Homo sapiens: one gene and its partner. The protein of the gene in region 2 interacts with the protein of the main gene of each other region in a biochemical or structural test. Each region holds a gene or a part of one and is shown on either strand. Other genes may lie near its edges.

Region 1 (3,979 bases), on a different chromosome or scaffold from region 2:
TCAACTGTTTTTGACCTATAAAAACAGTAATTTCAGCCCAGGTGTGGTGGCTCATACCTGTAATCCCAGCACTTTGGGAGGCCAAGGCAGGTGGATCACCTGAGGTCAGGAGTTCGAGACTAGACTGGTCAACATGGCAAAACCCCGTCTCTACTAAAAATACAAAAATTAGCCAGGCGTGGTGGTGCATGCCTATAATCCCAGCTACTTGGGAGGCTGAGGCATGAGAATTGCTTGAACCTGGGAGGCAGAGGTTGCAGTGAGCCAAGATCATGCTAAGGCACTCCAGCCTGGGCAACAGAGTGAGACTCTGTCTCAAAACAAAACAGAAAACAAAACAAAACCTAGTAATTTCACATGGCTCAACCTAACAGAAAACAAAGTCGTCTCCTCCCACCCATTTTCTGGAACACCAATAGTCAAGCTTGTATTCTCCAAACAAGAGACTAGAAAATTCTTTTCTAGAGAAGCCAAATAACCCCAGAAAAAAAAGACTGACAGCTATAGCCATTTGGAGAAACCCAAATAAACAGTAGGCTTGCTGCTTGATCATCCTGTGATTAATGGGCTCTCACTATCAACAATTTACTTACTTACAGCACAGAGTCCTAATCAACTTTTTTATTGTTCCACGTAATATAAGTGGACAACCAGAATAACCAGACATTTGAGAGAAGCTTCCAATATGAAAAAGCTTAAGGCAAAAAGAAAAGAGGAGGAATCTTGAAGAAACAGATAATAAAGTAAACAAAAGAAAACTTGACAAAACCTCTCAGAGACATAAAAGACACTGCATCTATGAAATCAGAATAGGGCTGGGCACGGTGGCTCATGCCTGTAATCCCAGCACTCTGGGAGGCCAAAGCAGGTGGATCACCTGAGGTCAGGAGTTTGAAACCAGCCTGGCCAACATGGTGAAACTCCGTCTCTACTAAAAATACAACAATTAGCCGGGCATGGTGGTGGTGGGCACCTGTAATCCCAGCTGCTTGGGAGGCTGAGGCAGGAGAATCACTCGAACCCAGGAGGCGAAGGGCGCAGTGAGCTGAGATCGCACCACTGCACTCCAGCCTGGGTGACAGAGCAAGACTGTGTCTTAAAAAAAAAAAAAAAAAAAAAAAGTGAGAAAGATGAAACAAAAAAACTTTTTTTAAATTAAAGAATTATAGAACCTTTCTCAGAATTGAAGGATGAATATCTAGAAAGGTCCAAGAGGGGCTGGGCGCAGTGGCTCATGCCTCTAATCCCAGCACTTTGGGAGGCTGAGGAGGGCGGATCACCTGAGGTCAGGAGTTCAAGACCAGCCTGAAACCCCGTCTCTACTAAAAATACAAAAATTAGCTGGGCGTGGTGGCAGATGCCTGTAATCCCAGCTACTCGGGAGGCTGAGGCAGGAGAATCGCTTGAACCCCAGAGGTGGAGGTTGCAGTGAGCTGAGGTTGCACCACTGCACTCTAGCCTGGGTGAGAAGAGTGAGACTCCTTCCCCCCTGCCCCCACCTAAAAAAAGAAAGAAATGTACAAGAGGGAAGAAGAAAAGAAAAAGTAAATGCATCAAGCATATCATTATAAAATATCAGAAGATAAGAATAAAGAGAAGATCCAAAAAGCTTTGGGAAATAGAAATAAGAAGTCCAATGCTATCCTGATTCCTGATCTTCTGTCTCTAATACAAAGCAGCACTGGAAGCTAGAAGACAATAGATAATGCCTTCAAAATACTCATGGAAAATAGTTTCCAACTTAAATCTTGACATCCAGTCAAATTATTAATGAGAAGACAGCAGAATAAAGATATTTTCAAAACTACAGCATCTCAAAATATTCCCTCACACAACCTTTTCTCAGTTACTGAAAGATGTAGCCATCAAAATGAGAAAATAAATCATGAAAGTGGAAAATATGGAATTTAAAAGACAGGAGATACATAATAAAGAAAGGAAAAAAGGAAAAGGAAATTATGATGGTAGTGAAGACAGATTAGAGAACAACCACTTTGACACAGGCATGGAAAGCATTTGGTCTCGAATGAAAAGAAGAAGGTGGTTCCAGGAAAAGGTATTCTGGGAAAAAAAAAAAAAAAAAAGACCTGAGTTAACAGGTTTTTAGATTGGTTTGGCCATGTGGAAATTAGACTGAAATGGAACAGAAGAATTATCAATCGATAAGATGAAAATGAAGCAAATGAAAAAATAACACAATTATTTAGGGGAAAAAAAGGCTGTACAAGGAAAAAATAGTACGCTACTTGGCTTGGTAATGAATAATATTTAAAAGCACTAAATATTCACTGTACTCCAGCCTGGGTGAGAAAAAGTGGGAGGACAGGAGTAGAAGGTGTGTGGTATGATGGAGCTAAGGGTTCATTTACTATGATATGCAAGTTAATAGATTCGAAAAGGTAACAAAAATTAAGAAATGGCTTTATAAGATTATTTAAAGAGGTAAGTTCTAACATTTTTGAAAGAAGAAAGGCTTATGTTTAAGCTTATATGAAAGATAACATCATATTTGGAAATTCATGGAAATTTCTGTAATCTCAGCTACTTGGGAGGCTGAGACAGGAGGATCACTTAAGCCTAAGGCCACGCTGGAGAACACAGCGAGACTGTCTCAATCAAAAAAAAAAAAAGAAAGAAAGAAATTCATGGAAATTTTAGTAGATAGAGAAGAGCTTTTTAAAACTGGAGAACAATCACATTCTTCTATAAATCTCAAAGAATCACATTTAAGCAGCAAGAGAACAAAATAAGAAATATAAAAGCTCGAAATGATAGACAAGCTGCACAGGATACAGAAGAGATCTATGAAATAAGGACAGAAGAATATACGCTTTCTTAGTAAAATATTTGAGAAAAATATTTAGACAGATCACTGTGATATACTTTAAAATGTAGTCTTACTTTTGGGCGAGAGGAGAGGGCATGTTCTATTTTCTGCTATTTAGTTTGAGTTTTTTGTCAAAGATTAATATTGGCTACTTTCAAAAATTATGTTTAATGTTAAACTACAATTAAAAACATGGTCCTATGGGATTGAAGGAAGATGGAGAAGTTTTTCAATATCTCCTTCCAGGGCTATGGCTTCATGAATGAGCAAGATTTAAAGCACTTATTTTAAGTAATTCTGAGAACAATCTACCTCAAGTGAGTATCTTTAGTATTATCTCCTTAAAACCAGTTTTAGATGACTAATTATGATTCTGTGTTTCTACAATGAAATAAAAATTCCAGTATACTCAAGAATGCCTGCCACTCACCTTCTTGATATAATCTAACAATGTCTCTATTGTGGTCTATGCAAGCTTCCTACTACAGGGAATTAGGAATAAAGCTGATTTTTTTACACAATAGAGGCGTGTTATGGGATAAGTCTTACCCATTCATAGGCTTAACAAGATTCATTTTGTGAGTCTATTGTGAAACGCTGAGCTAGGACAATAATATTCCCTTTCTTGGAAATCTGAACTACAAGGAAAAAAAGTTCCATTTGGCAGGTGTGGTGATGTATAGACAAGTTTGTACCAGGATATAAACCTTTAGACCTGGCTCTACCACAGATCTTGCTCTTCCTTAGGTCTCAGTTTGCTAAGTTTACTAAGGTTTCTGCCCCTCCTGAGGTCAGGTTATTCAACTTTATTTGAAATAACTTGCAACTGGCATTTTTACATTATTATAGCTTCTTAATTGCACATTATGTCACTACCATGAAAATATGCCTAAATTCAAATTCACATGTTACTTATTATTTTAGATATGTTCTCTATAGGCCTGGGTAAAGCAAAAGCTGAATGACTTTTCTTGCATAGCCTAAATATTTCCTTGGTATTACCTTCACAATTTTAGATATATTTTTCTACCGTAAAAAGCATGTCCCTTAATAAATAAATGTAAGAATTAGGTGGCAGCTATAGCACTAACCAGGCAGCTCTAATCTTAGAAAGGTATTTCCTAGGTCTACCACTTAACTAAAATCTTGAGC
Region 2 (3,979 bases):
AAAGTGGGAGGACTGCTTGAAGCCAGGAGTTTGAGACCAGCCTGGAAAACATAGCAAGACCCTGTCTCTACAAAAATTATTTAAGAAATTAACCAGGCATGCGCCAGCATGCCTGTGCACCCAGCTACTCAGGAGGCTGACAAGAGGGAAAGTCACTTGAGCCCAGGAGTTTAAGGCTGCACTTCCATTTACATAGCTATAAGCTATGATCACACCACTGCACTCAAGCCTGGGTGACAGAGACCCTGCACACACACACACACACACACACACACAAAATTGGCTAGACTAAGAATAAAGAGAGAAGACTCAAATTTTAAAATCATGTATAAAAATGGGAACATTAATATCAACCTTACAAAAAGTACACAATTATAAGAGAATACTATAATTGTATGCTACCAAATTGATGAAATAGATGACAAATTCCTAGAATATAAACTATAAAAACTGACTCAAAGGAAATAGAAAATCTGAGTAGATGTACAGCACGTAAAAAGATGGAATATGTAATAAAAAACAAAAAACTTACAACAAAGAAAAGACAAGGACCAGATGGCCTCACCAGTAATATGCTTCAATAAGAATGAACACCAATCTATCTTAAATTCTTCCAAAAATGAGAGGATGGGATACTACTTCCCAACTCATGCTATAAGGCCAGCATATCCTGATACCAAAGCCAGGCAAAGAAATCTCAAAAAACTACAGACCAATGTCCCTTATGAATACCGATGTGAAAATCTTCAATAAAATATAAGGAAACTAAATCCACAGTATAGTAGAAGGGTTATACACCATGACCAAGTAGGATTTATCCCAGGAATGCAAGGATGGTTCAACATATGAAAAAAACCCATGTAACACACCATATTAATAGAATAAAGGTAAAAAGCAAAAACAAAACACATGATCATCTCAACTGATTCAGGAAAAAGCACTGGACAAAATCTAATACCCTTTCTTGATTAAAACATTCAGAAATATAGGAATAAAAGAACACTTCCTCAACCTGAGAAAGAGCATCTACCAATAACCCCTAGTTATCATTATACTTAATGGTAAAAGTCTAAAAGTTTTTCCCCAAAATCAGAAACAAAACAAGGATTTCTGCATCATGACTTCTATGCAACATTGTACTGGAGATTCTGGCTAGGGCAATTAGACATGGAATATAAACAAAAGGCATCCAGATTGGGGAGCTGGAATTAAAACATCCTCTATTCACAGATGTCATGGTCTTATATAGAGAAAATCCCAGAGAATAAACACAAAAATTAATTTTAGAGCTAATAAGCAAATATTTTTATATACTAGCAATGAATCATCTGAAGATGAAATTAAGAAAGCACTTCCATTTATAATAGCATCAAAAAGAATAAAACTTTTTTTACAGCTCTCATTTCTTTATTGAGATTTCCAATTTGTTGGGTCAATGTCATCATATTCTCCTGTAATTATTTAAATAATGTTTCCTTTCTTTTACCATGTTTATAATAGCAGTTTGAAGTCTTTGCTAAGTCTAATATCTAGGCTCACTCACAGTCAGTTTCTATTAACTGCTTTCTTTTTCCCTCAGCATGGGTCACATTTTTCTGTCTCTTTACGTGTCTTAAAATTTGTTGTTAAAAACTGGACATTTTGGATAACATAGCCAGTGTATATTCTTTTTTTTTTTTTTTTTTTGAGACAGAGTCTCACTCTGTTGCCAGGCTGGAGTGCAGCGGTGTGATCTCGGCTCACTGCAACCTCCACCCACGGGTTCAAGCTGGGATTACAGGCGTGAGCCACCGCACCTGGCCACCAGTGTAGAATTTTATATTTCTGAGCCTTTTAACATGTCTGGCCCTAAACTGTGGAATCTGTGTCCTGGGCAGTGTGACTACATCTGTTCAGATTTTAATTCACATATATATGTTTTAGCCTGGCTTTCTAGAGAAGTCATTCTGTGTCTGAATATCTTAGTTTTCAGCTATGTACATGCCAAAGATATGCTCAAACAGCTTGAGCCTGCTCTTTAATCTGTATCTGGGTTAAGAAGGGCACATTCAAAGCTTAAAGAATTCTCATCTGCCTTGGCCCTTGCTCTCAGTTAGACAACCTCAGGTCTCCCCTACACATGTGCATAGTTTCACGTTATGCCAGGATATGTGAAGAGGTTATCCCTTTATGGTTCTCTCATTTCCAGGGTCTGCCTTTTAATTTATAGCTACTCTTCCACTCACCCCAACTGGCACTACAACCTTAAACTAGCAAATACATGGTTTTTCCTTGTTTTCCCCTACCAAGTTCAGTACATTTTATCGACAAAGGTTTTTACTCATTGCCCCAAATTGAATCAGCTGTCTGACAGCGAAGCTGCTGGTTTTCCAAACTACAATTCTTGCCAAAAGTGCTGGGACAGGAGGTCACAGTAGAAGCCCACGCGAGAATGCTGTAGACTTGCACTATTCTTACCTGAAGATCTAACAGTTTTCCTAAGAATAAATGTTTCTCAATGATTTTCTTTGCTTTTGGTTGATTTCCAGAGTTCAAATAGTTTTGGGCAATTCTGCCATTTTTATACTTGTGTGTGGAAAGGATTCACCAAACTCTTCATGCAGCCACAGGTGAAAGTACATTTCTTGCGGATATTTTTATGCTTGTCCTCCTCATTTTATAAATGAGAAAATAAAAACTTAGATGGCCTAGATCATTTTTTAAGGTTAAAGGACTATGTGGTCTTAAAGGGCTAATTTGTCAGTTAACAATCAACATGTAGGGCATGGTCACTGCAACCAAGTAGCATCTTGTTTGAAACCTGCCTGACTTTAGCTATTATCTTTTATATAAAAGTGATATGGCTGTTATAAACCACAAGTCATTGACTAAATCCAGATTTGTTTATCCAAGTGAAGAAATTTAAGATGTGGGTAATAAGCATAAAATAGGATATTTTGCCAAAGGCAAACAACTTGTTAAAGAAACTATTATATTAAAATGCATTTTTGACTGCTTTAAAGCAGGTAATATTAACCTATATAAAAGAGAAACATCCTTGTTGATATTGAGCCAAAAATTAGCCTATGATGCAACATATAGTTTAGTTTCTCTCCTCTGCCATAAAAAAAAAAAAATGGGCAAGTATGGTAGCTTTCCCAAAAAACATCCTTTAAATTCTTAAACATCCTCACATTTCTCTCCCAAATTCTACCTGCCTCGTTTTTGTTTTTTGTTTTTTTGTTTTGTTTTGTTTTGTTTTTACAGCTATAGTAACTTCCTAGCATAAAAGATGAAGCAAAAGCAATACAATTATAATAGCTATTGACTCCCTACCAGGAGAACAGGGCATAATTTCTAAGAATGTTTTCCAATAGTGATGATAGACTTGTGCCTCTCTACGCAACCCTTCTAATATTAGAAAAGAAAAATTGTCATAGCTCCATAAGTCTTCCCTTCTCCAAGTCAAACAACTCCAGTCCTTACCAGCAGAGCCAGAATCCTTTCACCACCACATGGCTCTACCGTGGCTCCAACAGCAACTCCAGTCAGAATATGGACATTCCTTAGAAATATCTCTTCGTGGTGTGGCGTATTCACCCTGAGTCTCAGCACAGACTCTAAACACCTGATGATACATTCGTTCGTAAGTATTTACTGAGCGCTACTATATGCCAGACACTGCACTTAAAGGAGGAGACAGAGCAATGAACAAGATTACGAATCCAGAGTCGCTGCACCCAAAAACTGGGGTTGGCAGACACTGAACAATCGCTAATTCAATTCATCCCAGACAGTACAGCTCACTTCGTGCTGAATACCACTAGGACCATCAGACTCAGACAGAGAATCTTTATTAGAATTTTCTAATACAAGGAATGGAAATCTACATAACATGTCCAAATACACACAATAGGGCAAGCCCATGGTAATTCCCATATGTCCTTTAGACAAAGTTTTCAACAATCCTCAGGAAAAAATATGAAAGAGAACAACGCGG

The links. The genes of interacting proteins can lie anywhere in the genome.
Region 1: the proteins of FBXL17 (region 2) and SPAST form a complex in vitro, tested with the Homo sapiens proteins (one study listed by BioGRID and IntAct).

Annotation. Positions count from the first base shown.
Region 1 is NC_000002.12:32,118,678-32,122,656, reverse strand, and holds part of SPAST (spastin), read right to left. Parts: intron 1-3,979. UniProt on the Homo sapiens protein: ATP-dependent microtubule severing protein that specifically recognizes and cuts microtubules that are polyglutamylated.
Region 2 is NC_000005.10:108,375,120-108,379,098, forward strand, and holds part of FBXL17 (F-box/LRR-repeat protein 17), read right to left. Parts: intron 1-3,979. UniProt on the Homo sapiens protein: Substrate-recognition component of the SCF(FBXL17) E3 ubiquitin ligase complex, a key component of a quality control pathway required to ensure functional dimerization of BTB domain-containing proteins (dimerization quality control, DQC).